Homo sapiens: one gene and its partner. Changing the gene in region 1 together with any one later gene gives a genetic interaction. Each region holds a gene or a part of one and is shown on either strand. Other genes may lie near its edges.

Evidence for each region. Genes that interact genetically often act in the same process or in processes that back each other up.
Region 2: of RBMS1 (region 1) and POLA1, changing one enhances a phenotype caused by changing the other (phenotypic enhancement), as found in Homo sapiens cells (one study listed by BioGRID).

What each region holds. Positions count from the first base shown.
Region 1 is NC_000002.12:160,273,500-160,281,060, forward strand, and holds part of RBMS1 (RNA-binding motif, single-stranded-interacting protein 1), read right to left. Parts: intron 5,160-7,561; coding exon 5,049-5,159; intron 3,885-5,048; coding exon 3,804-3,884; intron 2,216-3,803; coding exon 2,138-2,215; 3' UTR 2,131-2,137; exon of another isoform or gene 1,891-2,130; intron 1,266-1,890; 3' UTR 1-1,265.
Region 2 is NC_000023.11:24,688,979-24,697,396, reverse strand, and holds the start of POLA1 (DNA polymerase alpha catalytic subunit), read right to left. Parts: upstream 3,480-8,418; 5' UTR 3,436-3,479; coding exon 3,393-3,435; intron 1-3,392. UniProt on the Homo sapiens protein: Catalytic subunit of the DNA polymerase alpha complex (also known as the alpha DNA polymerase-primase complex) which plays an essential role in the initiation of DNA synthesis.

The DNA.
Region 1 (7,561 bases):
CTAATAGAGAGAGAGAGAGAGAGCTAGTAGCCAATCGTTTTGCTTCTATTCGTTATCTCAGCTTATGTTTGAAGATAAATCCTTACTTTTAGCTTTTGCCACTTTGTTGCAATAGCAACATTTTTCGGTTTGCCAGATTTCAGGCATAATTCTCATTCTAAAGCACTATCATTAGTATAAAGGAAGGACAAAACATTCAGTGACTCCCCTCCCCCACCCCCATCCCCAACCCCAACACTACCTACACTAAATCTAGTACATCAAGTTAGCTTTTTTTTTTTCCTGAAAAAAGGCAAAAAAGACTTTACATTGCATCATACAGCAGATATCCTAAATCAGTCAAACTATCAGAGGAAACTGTTGGCGTACAGCCTTACAAACAATTTACCCTAATAAAAGTTCCCCAGTCAGAAAATGTGTTTCACACAAAACATTTTTCCCTTCTTGCATTTCACTACCTTACACATTATGTGAAAAATCATTAAAAACACCTACTACATATTTAAAAAAGCCAAAATTTCAGCAACTTTTATTGACTACCTTTTAAAAGCCCTATGCTGCTGTTTTACAAGGCATAATAGACCAGCTCATTTGGTCAAAGCATTCTACATCATTAGTTTGAACTAACTTTTACTGAAACAGCTACAGCATCAAAAGAGTTAAGGCAAATTGGAATTCATAGAAAAGGATAAGACACTTCACACTACGTTGAAAGAAAGACAGAAAGCTAAGAAAAGAGACACTGACGGCAACACTGAATTACAGCAACACTCGCACTGCAAGCACAGAACACCATGGGTGAAGTCGGACTATTTAAACTTCAGAAAGCCCATTTCATACAGCTGGAAAAAAAAAACACAAATTAAACACAAAATGAACAAAACCACAAAAATCCGGTCATGCACTTGGATAAGTCTTCATGGTCTTTGTGCATACCCAGAAAATTGAAGTTTTCTTTTCTTTTTTTTTTTCTTTTTCTTTTTTTGCATCATAACATTTGATAAAAATCTTTTGTTTTTGTTTTTTGTTTTTTTTTTTTTACTAAAATAAACCTGTTCGGGGGAACAGCTACTAGATGAATTTAAGGGTTTTATGCACCTTATAGAACTTATAGCAAAAATAGTTTTAGTTGATTTCATTATAAATAACGTTTTCAAGAACCTGTGCAAAACTGTCAATAATTTCCTAAAGCACAATTGATCAGAAAAATCCATGATTGTTCAGCCTTCACACCCTTCTTCATGTAAGAACACCTTTCTGTACATCTGGAAGAGAAAAATAAAAGACAAATGCTTTTGTAGATTTGGTGTGAAACACTACAGAGCTTTGTAATCTGTTTCTTGTTTTAAAGAGATATGTGTTTGAAAAAGGTTATGCTCATCACTGATGGTAGACTGATAAATGCAGACTCTGGAACTGATGGTTACTTTCAATGCCTGTCACATCCAGGACTTGCAAAATACTTTCTTTTCTAATTTAGAGCCAAATTCATTTGGGTCTCTAAAGAGTGACTTTATGAAATCAAAAATACATGTTATCACCAGGGCAATCCAGAAACCAAGGTATTCTATATCACCAGGGCAATGCAGAAACCAGGGTATTCTAAGTTCTACACAGCTATTTTATTACAGTCTGCATGGTAAAGTGAAAAGTTTTGAAATTTGTGGTTCAAGTGAGAGTTGGGAATATAATCTTTCAATCTAAGGATATTGACATTTATCTAAATTCATAATCAAGATGTTGCTAAACTTGTAATGCTAGATTGAGCAACATCTTATGCTATAGGTCCTCCAGTTTCTGAGTATTAAAGTAATATGATATAGGATACTTGTATTATAGAACAATTTTGGTTCTTGGTGTTCTCTGATGTTACAGATTTTTATTTTTTTCTTTTTAGTGGGGAGAGTATACATTTGGCTTCAGTATAAAGCATTCTCTTTAGACAAAATGATTAATCTTAAATTCATAAAATCACTGATTTTAATATTTCAACAAGACTAGATGCCTTGGCCACGATTAAAGCAGTATGATAAAATCCGAGTTATCCCAATCACCATTCTGATTTTAAAAAAAGCCCTATAGATTGTGCTTGATTTGAGCCCCCCAGTTATGAAGACCTTTCCCTCATACCTCACAGTTACTTATTAGGTTGAAAGGTATATGGAGAATGGTCATTAGACGTCTCGACAGCCACCTGCTGTTGACCACTTGCCTCCTACAACAAACAAAGCAGAATGGATGAGACATGTTAGTGAAAAAACCTCAGCTCTGCTACTTAGGCCTGACTGAATCCAACAGTGCCTTAAAAACAGTTACTCTTTAAAGTAAATTTCTTCACGTCATGTAGAGCTTTCAAGGTTAATCATTTCCCTAAGCAGCTGGCATGTCTAACAGACCCAAAGCACCTCCCATCCAAATGTTTATGACTTTCCTATTCTTATCAAGCTACAGCATATCAAACAAATCTCTTACCCTCTTATCCCCTGGGGACAGATGTGATTTGGAATTCAGTATTTTCAGATTTTATAATCTGAAATGTGGTATGCATATGCTGTATATCATTTAATGCCTCCAGTAGGGTCTAGGGCTGCACCTCATAAGCAAACATATTAATAGTTCTACACTGGAAGCCATGAAGCAGCACAGTTAAGTGGGATCAAGATTTTGTCTCATCTCAATTCAGGTTGAGTTTTGCCATAGGTCAGGTTTTATGCTAAAGTAGTTACAAAGATAATTTTTATTTTCAGATTTCTTTTTGGGTTTCAGATTGCAGGTAAGGAATTGTAGGCTCTGGTAACTGTGGTTGTCAGTAATTGCACAAACAGAAGTAAAATACTACTACCACCACCACCACCACCACCACCACCACCAACACCTACTACTACTACTACTGCTACTACTATCACCACCACCACCACCACCTCCACCAACAGGCCAGAGTCCTATGATCCTTTCCTGGAATTGGAACCTTTGGGATCTGCCTAGTGGGCAAGATCAACTGGATTGATACATTTCCTTGAAATTTTAAGGATACTTTGCAGGAAAATGCCACGTTTTCTCTCTAACCATAATTCAAATGCTAGACTTCTTTCTTTCATATCAGTATCTTCCATAACAAGAACAGTTATCTAGCCATACTAACAGCCTCTGTAAAAACAGCTATAGCTTCTTCTTCATCCCTGTAGCAGTTTCAAAACAGCTTTCTCTTTTCCACTAAGTATCTTAACTACAACTGATTTCTTTTCGTCATTATTAATTATCATTGATACGATCTTTAGTACTGGGACTGCAAACTCCAGATTTATCTTATTATGTCTGTAGTATCATTTTATGAGAGACAAGACAGAACGTCCGAGGGGTATGAAAGGCACTATAGGCTTAGAAAATATTTCTGGGAGTCTTAAGAGGTGTGGCCTGGATGTTGTTACCCTAATTTGTCATGATCATAGCTCACTGTAGTTGCAAACTCCAGGGCTCAAGGGTTCTTCCTGCCTCATACTCCTGAGTAGCTGGGACTACAGGTCCATGTCACCATGTCTGGCCAATTTTCAAACAATTTTATTTTTTGTAGAGATGGGATCTCACTATGTTGCCCAGGCTGGTCTCTAACTCCTGACCATAAGCAATCCTCCCTCCTCAGCCTTCCAAAGTGTTGGACTTACAGGCATGACCCACCACATCTGGCTAAACGCAATTCTTTATGCAAATATTTGACGTCTGGTAGATTTTTCTGAGTTCTATTTAATTTACCCATTTCTGAAACTACTTATAGCCAGAATGGTCACTGGATGGTCTCTACCAACCTCAACAGGAACCGCTGTCGTCTGCATATGTGCATACTGTGGCAAGTAGGCTCCTTGCATAGCTGACGTTGCAGGCATGTACTAGAAAGAAGAATGAGGTCAGAATGGGCAATGGTAAACCATGCAAAATTTGGAGTACGTGGGGGGATTGTGAGATGGATATAATGTATTTGGAAATCTCAAAGAAGAAATTTAAATGGGCTACACCTCAAAGCTTAAATAGTGCATATAAATATGTCATATGGAAGGTAAACTGTTTTCTACTTTTTGAATCTGCTAAACTAAAAATTCCACATTTCTTTGGATTTGCTAACAAAGTGAAGATAAAAAAAGTTTATTATGGGTGAAGATAAAAAAGTTTGTCACTCTCAATAATTCAGTATCACTAATGTGTGATTTTAGAAGATCTCTCCTCAAAGGACCTCATTATTTTCTAGCAGCCCCCTAAACTAGTACCTAGTATTGTTTCTACAGGTAGAGCCCACAGGGGTAAGACTTATTAGACCTCTAACAGGTCACTGCAGATTAGGCAGCAGAGCCTGGCTTTTCTGACACTGACAGTCATCCTTTCCCAAAGGCAGGAGAAATTTCTAGTCAGTCTCATTGGATATGTGTGGCCCTGGCTTAGCCTTCACAAGAAACAGCTGTAGGTTTTGAGTGTATAAGGGGAAAACGCACCACCCTTTGTTCTTTTAAGCCACTATAGAATAGAGGCTAAATTAAAATCCTTTAGCCATCTTACCAGCAAAATGCTAAGCATCAAATCTGGAAGCTGATCTGGTGCCAGCTCAACCTCATTACCCAAAGGAGTCCCCTGGACTTTGGTGAAATATTTCAATATTAAGACCATGATTCAATACTCCCAAACTCCATAAAAGAAGAAATAAGCGAGAAATAATTCCCTGCTTTTACCATCTTGTATTACCTTCGTCTTTCGCTTCATGACACTGCCACAGGGACAGTGGTACTAGTTATATAGATGACACTAGTCATAAAAGGCTAGATGTGGTCACGTGTGGGTGCTATATTCTCGTAAAGGAGAGATACCCAGAGAATAGACTTTCAGTTCATCAATTAATTAAGAAATAGCTGAGTATTTACTTTATGGAAGGTCATGTGGGGGGAAGAGAGGGGATTAGACATAATCTGTTATCATAGAGGCTGTCATTTGATAGGGAAGATACAGGCTGCATTAATTTACCCTCCTCTGTTTACAGAGACACATGATAATTATTTGCCACCTACTGTTCCGGTGCTGCCTAGTGACAGATGACTCATCTGCTGGGCCAGAGGGCTGATCATTGATGCGGGCTGTAGTGACATGGTGTGCTCCATTGAGGGAGTTAACACGGCACCCTGGGGAGTTGGAGACAGGAGCAAAATTAGACAAACTGAGGCAAGAGTTAAGATCCTGTAATTACTTTTTACAAAGGAAATACCTTAGTTTGTTTAAGAATGTGAAGCAAAAACAACCTTCCTCAATCTTGCAAATGGCATCATAAACAGTTTCCTAAAAATCTTCTAAATTGCTCTTCCTGAGAGTTTTTTAAGAGCGTTAGGGGAAATGATATCTTGGCATTCACTTCACAACAATCCCTGTATTAAAGCCAGTGTCCCTCTTCTCCTTCCCTTTCCCTTCACTTCCAGTAACTGGAAGCAAGCTAGTCCAGCAGGAGGAGCTATCATAGGAAAAACAAACTGATTATCACTGCCTGCCTAGGGTTACAAAACGCTTTCTTAAAAAAAAATCTGGAAAAAAAAGGCAGTTGATGTTTTCTCCAGTCACCAAACAATGTATTATATTTAATAAGATCAATATAGTATTTTGTTTAACAATGTTCTATCCAGATAATCGTCTGGTTCAAGATCAGGTTGTTAGGATCAAGAGCACATTTCTTCATTCACTCAGTGTTTCTCAGAACTTTAAGTTACATTTTGGTGCCTGGGAGGGAAGGCAATTCAGATATGATTAATAATCTGAGTCCAGATTCTTTTATTTAATTTGAAAAAATGTTAGTCATTAAAATCAAATTAAATATATTTAGGAAAATAGGAGGGAAAAAAAAAACAATTGCTTCTAACTCAGCCAGTCTAATACAACCACTGTTAGCAATGTCAGGGTACTACTGCCAGATCATAGCCTCTGTGTGTTTCTGTACAGGTTCAATCAGAGCACATCAACAACTTCATATCCTGGGATTTTGCTCTTAACTTTGCATTCTATTCTAACCATTTACCTAGCTTGTTGAAAAACTATCATTATCATCATTTTTTTAAATGGTTACATTGATTGTATAAACCAAAATTCAATGAACTCTTTATTTTTGGACTTTTGCAATCACCTCATTATCTGAGAATGCAAGTATTCTGACACGCTCTGTAACTACTAATGTATGTTTTGTTATCACTGTACCTGGCATCCCTTAAATACAACTGTTATTTATTGATAATTAGATAGACAATCTAGGACAGAGTTAGGTGTACAGGAACTTTAATTCTGATGTAAATCAGGCAGTTTAAAGCTGGGTGGGGAAAGGTAATGAATCCTCAGATAGCAACCTTCTGCTTACATTCCTAATGTCTCCTCAAAGATGTTAAGCTCAGATACGTGCAGTCTTTTTCTCAAATGTTGCCAAAAAGAAAAAAAGATATAGATGTGTGTCAGAGATAATGTTTGTCATTAATACATTCTGTTAGAAATTTTTTTTTTAACATGCATCATCAAAAAGCAAGTGGTAACACGGAAATGACTCAGAAGCCTAGAAGATGGTGGAGCAGTTTCCTGCTCCTTTTTCTCATTCATTGGCACCATCTGTAATAGGAAGTCCTCAAATTCAAAGCAAGCTGATTTCCAAGCATTCCAAAATAGGGTAGCATGGAGTATCAGGGACACAGATTGCTATGGGCATGTGTGGATCAGTGCATGTATATTATGTACACATGTACAGGTAAGTGTGGGTTTGAAGATGTGTCTATGTATGTGCACATGTATAGATCTATATGTATGTGTATATATCACACAAAACGTATACATATATCAGAGCGCGCCTCTCCTATTTCATCACCTAAACATGTTTTATCTGCTTCTTAAAGGTCATCTCAGCAATTTCTCATTCAGAACCTGTTATCCCTGGATTGCTATTTCATATACATGGTCTTACATCGCAGTATCCACTTTAAAAGGTATCCGAAGACAAATTGCTGTCTGAACATAAGGCCAAGAATACAGTTCTTTTTCTAAGCAACCAAATCTGTTTTTATTTTACACATATTGTGAACTGTATTGCTTACCAGGATTCCCATTTTGCATCAGTTACTAGAAAGCTTAGAGCCAAATTTGTGATTTTCTCATGTGAGCATGCAGGGTCATTGTGTTGGACATCCTTAGCCTTATTGTAACTTTGTTCTCCATATGTATTTTTAAATTTTCAAACCCTTCTTCCACAAACTAGATCTTATGTGTCTTTGAAAAACACATGAAATACACTATATAATAAGTATAACTCATTCAATTTAAAAAAATGTAATATATATGAATGCTCACGTCATTAAGAAATCACATTTGTTATTTACCAAATAATGTGCTACCACTTTAGTATTTATAATCTCCATAGAAAGGCCAAGTAACACTGATGAAAATCTTCATCTCGGTTTTGAACTTTATATCTGCATTAAACAGAATGTAAAAAATGAGAGCGGTTTTATCCCAAGTACTATTAAAAATGTAGCCTCTCATTTGAATGATCTCTAAAGAGCTG
Region 2 (8,418 bases), on another chromosome or scaffold:
GGCCTACATGAAAAGGCTTTGAAGATTACTGAACATGACCCCTGAAAGTGAAAAGCGATTCCCCTCAAGACTCCCTTGATGCCTGACATCTGTAGGTCTTCAAATGCACTTACTCCATAGGCAACAATGTTCCACTACACAGGCAACAATGTTCCACTACACAGGCAACGTCCCACTACACAGGCAACAATGTTCCACTACACAGGGTTTAGGGTACAATCACAAATAAGACAGAGCTGCCTGTCCAAAAGAGGCCCCCAGTCAAGTAAAGCAAAGTACCTGAAATTACCATCACAATATAAACATGGTGCCATAGAAAAGGTAAGAACTCAGTACTGAGGAAATGTACAGAGGAGAGAGCTGTTAATTTTGCCTGGAAAATCAAGGAAGGCTTCACAGGAGAGGTTTCCAATACAGGCCTAGAAAAAGGAGTCAAATTTCACAGAGAACAAAGTAAAAAGTGGCACAAGCAAAAGAAGAGGCATGAGCCAAATTACAAAGGGATGAAAATGCATAGTGTATTCAGAAACTGAGAGAACTCAGTGTGCAAGGTAAATTCGACAAGGGAGTGTAGAGTGAGTAGGAGAACCAGGTTAGGGAGAAGCAGCACATTCCAGCTCTGCCATTTACTGGGTGACATGAGAACACCGGTTAACCAGTTAAGCAGCAGACAGGTGTCTTGTTATTTAAAGCAGCCTAGCATCTGAAACTGTTTGTGAAATCCGGCCCCCATCCCTTATAAGTCTTGATGAGACGCAGAGCCTATGCCCCATTACAGAAGCTGAAAAGGTTGATGCTCTTTCCCAGACACCCTTGCAGCCTAGAGCATGGGCATATAAAATAGGCGCTACCGATTAGGAACACCTGCTCAGACATTAAATCAGAAGCTAGTGTCACAAGGAAGGGGGCATGGGTTTTAAAAGATTCTACAAGTAGCAACAGCTGCAGAAGGATTACAAAACCGGCAACAATGTCAGCAATGTCCTAAGGTATGAGCTATAGCATCAAGTACTTGCTCGTGGTTGGCAATGACCTCCTCACTGGCCCATTTTTGTGGCACAATTTCACTCACTGTTCCTGGCTAAACAGCTCCCAGACTGGCTTACTAGTCCTCCTGGAGTTTCTGTGAACACAATATTCTTCTAACAAATTCTAACCAATCTGGTAGAGTTGGTTCCTGCAGCTTACAGATAGGGGCTCTGACTGATGCAGAGCCTCAGGGTCCACATCTGTGAAATGGGGATAATCATGTCTGCTTCAAAATCTGTTAAGGATTACATGAAGATGCCTATCTTACTTTGCACTTAGCAATATAGGAGCGGCTCATGTAACGCTTCCGCGTGTGAAGTCAAACACACATCCACATACCCCACACACACCATACCTAAGAGTACCAAGGTCTAGCTTTAGAAGGCAAAAACAAAGCAAAGCCGTTTTCTGCATATGATTAGATGTTTACCATCTGTACTTCATGAAGACAAACCATGTCCAGCCTACCCACCATCATAATGCCAGAGCCTGGCAGAAGGCTTATACCTAGTAGGTATATAATAAATATTTGCTGAATGAACCAATGAATGAACCACTGTACCTGCTTTTTTGATCATTAAACTTTCCCTGGCCGGGCGCAGTGGCTCATGCCTGTAATCTCATCACTTTGGGAGGAAGAGACAGGTGGATCACCTGACATCAGGAGTTCAAGACCAGCCTGGCCAACATGGTGAAACCCTGTCTCTACTGAAAATACAAAAAATTAGCCGGTGTGGTGGTGGGCACCTGTAATCCCAGCAACTCGGGAGGCTGAGGCAGAACTGCTTGAACCCAGGAGGCAGAGGTTGCAGCCAGCTGAGATCACGTCACTGCACTCCAGTCTGGGCAACAAGAGGGAAGCTTTGTCTCAAAAATAAATAAATAAATAAAAATTCCCTGATCTTTTTTCATATATAGTAACAGCTAGTTACAGACCTTTCAACTTTTCACTGCCATTATCAAGGTGCCCTGCCTGCTAATACTGAAGAAAAAAAAAAGCCTACATTTTGTTTTTTGGAGTATGTCTCCAATGCTTCACGTAGGTAACTTAGCAAAAAAAGAATAAGCATGAAAAAAATCCAGCTACAAAGGTTTAAATATTTGTTTCAAAATTACCATCTGGAGTATCTCTATCCTCCCCAAAAGCAGACAGACACTAGCTTACAGCAGTCTTTCAGGTAACAATCCTTCAGTCTGCTCTAAAGGAAAAATTCCAGTCACAAGTCCCCAGCAACTACTTAATGAACACCATGACCTAAGAGGAGTCTCAAGATTGCACAGTATCCTCCAAAGTGATTTCCTGATGTTCATAGATGACGTAGTTTTTAGGATGAAGAAAGGGCTTAGTGGCAAATCACTGATAGAGGCCTGCAAAGACTGTTCGTTCACATACTTACACCCAACATCCTATCTGTAATCCAGGCAGGTCGACTCTCCAAAATAGTCTTAAAAAACGAACGGCTAGAACAAATTGAAATCTGTGACTCACAACTAGGTGAATGCAAAGGAAGCTGATTAGGAAGCGAGTTCTCATTAATGGTGATGTATCTGAATGACAGGAGAGGTGACGCTTGAGCTAACAAAGTGAAGCATCTGATTTTAAGTTAGAAGTTAACTGAAGTCACGCTTTAGTTGAACACTTAAAAAATCAGACAAATCTATTTGCATTTTTGTATTCTATTTTTGGAAATAAAAGACACCCCTGACAAACGGAGTGATATACAGGGGATCCGAAATGCCCTAAATTGATGCCATTTTTTTGAAACTTCACCAGGAATGACTAGATTGTGAACAGGATTTCTACGCAGCACTTGAAGAACTTTCCAAAGAATCTGAAAGAAAAATTGTTAATGCATAAAGTAGAAACCCATTACCTAAAAATACAAAACGCGTTATTCCCCGATGACAGCACTTAGAGCTTTCTTTCCTGCTTAGTTACAATGTATAAAATTTTCCTGGAAGTTCCTACAAAAAGGGACACAGATCTGTTCTGTTCAAGCCTTCAAGTGGATACTTAGGGAGATCGCAGTGAAATACTTTCGGCCCCACGGGGCCAGTCTCAATAAAGTTATACCCAGCACGTGGGTGCAACTCACCAAAAGAAATAGAAACGCAATCGACTGTGGAGACTCTCAGTGGCAGAGGTGAGACAGCCTCCCAAACAAAAATCCCTCCAGGCTCTGGTCCTCCAAGAGCAAACCGCGCCTAAAGGAAGCCCGGTCCGACGCCAGAAGGGCCCCCGCCGGGGACGACCAAGGTCTGCGCCCAAACAAACCCGGGTGTGCGCCTCCCTCAGAACCCCCACCACCGGCAATCATGCCACTGTCCCAACCCGGAGCCCCGCGCGCGGAATTGTCCCTCACCACTCGCCCCTATCTCACAGTCGTCGCCGTGCACAGGTGCCATGGTCCCGAATCTCCCGATTCCGCGCCAACCAGCCCAAAACTGGCGCGGGGGCCGAGACAGGCGCCAGCCTGAAAGCCAATCAGCGGCTCGGGAGGCTGCGGACTTCCGGCCGGAAGGCCACTGACGTGCCGCGCCGCGCCGCGCTCCGCCCCCGGCCTTCCCGCGGACGCGCGTTTGGCGCCCTGTGATGACCCCTTAGGGAAAAGCTAGAGCTGAGGGGAAGCCGGAGGAGAGCAGGAGAAAGAAGCGGTCGGGCGCTGGAAAGGAGCCGCCTGGAGACTGCGCAAGCGCACGCATGCTGATGGGAAAAGATTTGGGCGCGTGGGAGAAAGGGCGCTCTGGTTCTCAGAGCCCATTTTCCCGGAAAGGAGGCGCGGGCGGGCAGGAGAGTGGGCGTGGTTGGATCGTTTTCCCCAGAGCCGGGAAAGCGACTGCCTCCTGCTGCGCGCCCTGAATTTTGCCTGATAGTTTGCTTCTCAGCAGTCTGGATACAGTGGCTGTGTGATTAACAACTTAAAGATATATGCTCCGTCTTAACCAAATAACCAGAAGTAGCATTACCAATAAATGGCCATCTGATCTCATATGCCTCCTGATGTAATGCGTATGAAAAAGGAAAAACTTCGCCTATATGGTCTTCTTGCAAAAAATGTCTAACCTGAATCTAACCATGAAGAAACAATCAGATGTATTCAAAATGTAGGACAATCTACAAAACACCTGACGTGAACTCCAAAATTTCAATGTTATGAAAAACAAAAAGGGTATTCAATTTTTGTGTATGATACAATGGCTGTAATGTGTACATCTCATGTTATCTCTTTCCAAAAAGGTATAACATTTTTATTAAATAATGCCTGCCACACATTTGTATTTTTTCCTACATTATTGCCCACATGCTTATTGATCCCTTCTTCATGTGACAACAATTTTGTAATATTTTCTCCAAAGAGGATATAAAGATAATTCAATCTGTCTTCTAGCATGGTTGATCAATACTTGTTTCTTAATTTCTGATTGTTTAGAAAATGTCTTTCAGCTTCATAATCATTTAATATCATGTTATGTGATCCATATGTTGTGATACATAACATGTAGTAATTTACACTTAGACATAACTTCCTATTTAAAGTACTACGACAGATTTATTCCTACACTTCCCTTTTAAAAACTGATGGAAGTTTTATAGTTTTATTATCAAGCTTTTTCCAACCAGGAGAGAACCATGTTGGCTAGTCATTAATAAGAACCAAATCCTTACCTTAACAATTTCACAGCTGATTACTTCCCACATGCCCGGGTATAACTCTAGGCATTTCAAACCTCTTTTCTCTTTCACTACTGCTGTGGTCTGAATGTTTCTCTCCACATAAAATGTATGCGTTGAAACCTAATCACCAGTGTGGTGGTGTTAGGAGGTAGGGCCTCTGGGAGGTGATTAGGTCATCAGCAGGAACCCTCCCTCATGAATAGGATTAGTGCCCTCGGAAAAGAGGCTCCAGAGAGCTGCCTTGCCCCTTCTTCCATGTGAGAACAGAGCAATAAGGCACCATCTATGGACCAAAAAGTGGGCCTACCCCAAACACTGAATCTGCCGGCACCTTGATCTTGGAATTCCCAGCCTACAGCACTGTGAAAAATAAATTCCTGTTGTTTATTAGCCACCCAGTTTGTGGTATTTTGTTATAGCAGCCTGAACAGACTGAGACAATGACCCACATACTTTGTGGGAAAAGACCTGTAGGACACTTTCTCTTTTTGAGATGGAGTCTCGCTCTGTCATCCAGGCTGGAATGCAGTGGCACCATCTCGGCTCACTGCAACCTCCACCTCCCAGGTTCAAGCGACTCTACTGCCTCAGCCTCCCGAGTAGCTGGGATTACAGGCGCCCGCCACCACACCTGGCTAATTTTTGTATTTTTAGTAGAGATGGGGTTTCACCATGTTGTCCAGGCTGGTCTTGAACTCCTGACCTCAGGTGATCCACTCATCTCAGCCTCCCAAAGTGCTGGGATTACAGGTGTGAGCCACCATGCCAGGCCAGACACTTTCATACCATGATATGTCTTCTGGCCCTACACTTTCAGTTCAAAACTCCTGGTAAGTCATCACACTGGGGTAGAAATATTCCTGGAAGCTATTCCTACACCAAGAAGTCTATGAATAACAGCCCGGCGCTGTGGCTCACGCCAGTAATCCCAGCACTTTGGCAGGCCGAAGCTGACAGATCATGAGGTCAGGAGTTCAAGACCAACCTGACCAATATGATGAAACCCCATCTCTACCAAAAATACAAAAATTAGCCGGGTGTGGTGACAGGCGCCTGTAGTCCCAGCTACTTGGGAGGCTGAGGCAGAAGAATAGCTTGAACCCGGGAGGCAGAGGTTGCAGTGAGCCGAGATTGTGCCAGTGCACTCCAGCCTGGGTGACAGAGTGAGACTCTGTCTCAAAAAAAAAAAAAAGTCTATCAATAACTTAAGTATATATGGCTTAAGTATATATGTGGGTTAAGTGCCTTCGACCCACATAAATAGAAGAAATAAGCCCAAACTAAATGCAATATCAACTCCATTTCCCCATAGTGGAATCCCAAAATGCCTATGCCTATTTCACTGCTACTATGCAAGAAGCGAAGTGTATCAGAGGGACAGTTGGAGGTTCTCAAGAGCTGATTGTTAAATATTCCAGTATTTTGTAATCTCCATGTTAAACTGTTGGTAGCTTGAAATCAGTCATGGTGGGAATATTTACACCCTGGAAATTGGCAAGTGGTACAAATCAGAGCTTTTTATTTTTTTAAGGTTTACCAGCAAACCACCAAGTGGAAAGTAGTCATATCTGATTGCAGCTAAAATATCTTACTTTTGTAGATCTACCATTTGATCCAGCAATCCCACTCCTGGGTATCTACCCAGAGGAAAAGAAGTCATTATACATGATAGATACTTGCACGCGCATGTTTACAGCAGCACAATTTATAATTGCAAATATATGGAACCAGCCCAAATGCCCATTAATCAACAAGTAGGTTAAAAAAAGTGAGATATGTGTATATATACATATGTGTGTGTGTATATATCTCACACACACACACACACACACACACACACACACACACACCATGGAATACTACTCAGCAGTAAAAAGGAATGAAATAAAGACATTCGCAGCAACCTGGATGGAATTGGAGACCATTATTCTAAGTGAAGTAACTCAGGAATGGAAAGCCAAACATTGTGTGTTACTCGTAAGTGGGAACTAAGCTACAAGTATCCGAAGGCATACGAATGATACAATGGACTCATTGTATCATAAGAATGATACAATGGGGACTCTGGGAAAGGTGAGAAGGAGGTGAGGGATAAAAGACTACACATTGGGTACAGTGTACACTGCTCAGGTGATAGGTGCAACAAAATCTCAGAAATCACCACTAAAGAACTCATTCACATAAACAATTAATTAAGTAATAATATTAATAAAAAGGATTGGGGTAGATTAGATGGGAATGAAGGAGGGAGCCAGGGTTGTTTTAGAATAAATGGAGCAAATAAATATGACAAATACTATCTTAAAATAAACAAATAAATAAAATGAAATATCTTACTTTTGCAAATGTTTACAAAAACATAAAACCATTGCTAGAACATCTCCCAGAGCCTTGCAAGTGGCCAATATGCAAATGAGAGGCCCTGGAGATTAAGTTTCAGCAGCTTTACTGTAAACCTACCTCTGTTATCTAATCATGCAAAAAAATCATAATTTGTCTTAAACTTCCTCTCTCCTGTCCAGGACCAGTTTTGCAAGTTTAAAGGTTTTTTTTTAACTTATAAACAAAGTAAAGCAAACTGAGACTGAGATACTATGTTCCACCATTTTCCCCCTTTTTATCTGTACATTTCTCTATATATAAATGTTATCCATTGCTGGTAAGCTTACAGTGTTGAGGCACAACTCATTTATTACAGGTGGCAGTGTAAGTTGGCACAATCTTTTGGAAAATAATATTGCAATATGTGACAAGTACCGTAAACATACTTGTATCTTTCAACCCTTTATTTCCACAGGTAAAAGTTTAATAAGAAATAATAGAAACAAAAAATGCAAAGACGTTAATGGCTGCTGTTTTCCATTAGCAAAAAGTTGGGACCTAAAAGTCCACATCATAACAAAGGTTTAATGTTGTGACATCAAAAAGATAAAATGATTAGAAAGACTCAAAATATGAAAAATGTTTATGATATTTCAGAAAGTGAAAACCACAGAGGGCAAAGTGATACATACCCACACTTATTTGCAATGATATATCAAACAGTTATTTACCTGAAAGCAATATGCAAAATGGAGTATATTTTGCCAGGATGATAGAATTATAGACTCTTTTTGTTTATAATTTGTCCTCTTTAATATTATATTGGAAGGATTAAAGACTCAGGTAGAGTCAGACTTAGGGTTTGATTCTTAGACTTCTACTTTTATGTGAATCACCACACTGTCTTCCACAATGGTGGAACTAATTTACAGCCATAAAAAAGAAACCAGGTGCAGTGGCTCACGCCTGTATTCCAAACACTTTGGGAGGCCACTCTGGGTGGGCAGATCACCTGAGGTCAGGAGTTCGAGATCAGCCTGGCCAACATGGCAAAACCCCATCTCTACTAAAAATACAAAAATTAGCCAGGCATGGTGGCGGGCACCTATAATCCTAGCTACTCAGGAGGCTGAACCAGGAGAGTCACTTCAACCCAGGAGGCAGAGGTTGCAGTGAGCCGAGATCGCACCACTGCACTCCAGCCTGGGCGACAGAGCACGACTCTGTCTCAAAAAAAAAAAAAAAAAAAAGAATGAGATCACGTCTGCAGCAACATGGATGGAGTTGGAAGCCATTATCCTAAGCGAACTAACATAGGAACAGAAAACCAAATACCACATGTTCTCACTTATAAGTGGGAGGTAAACATTGAGTACAAATGGACACAAAGA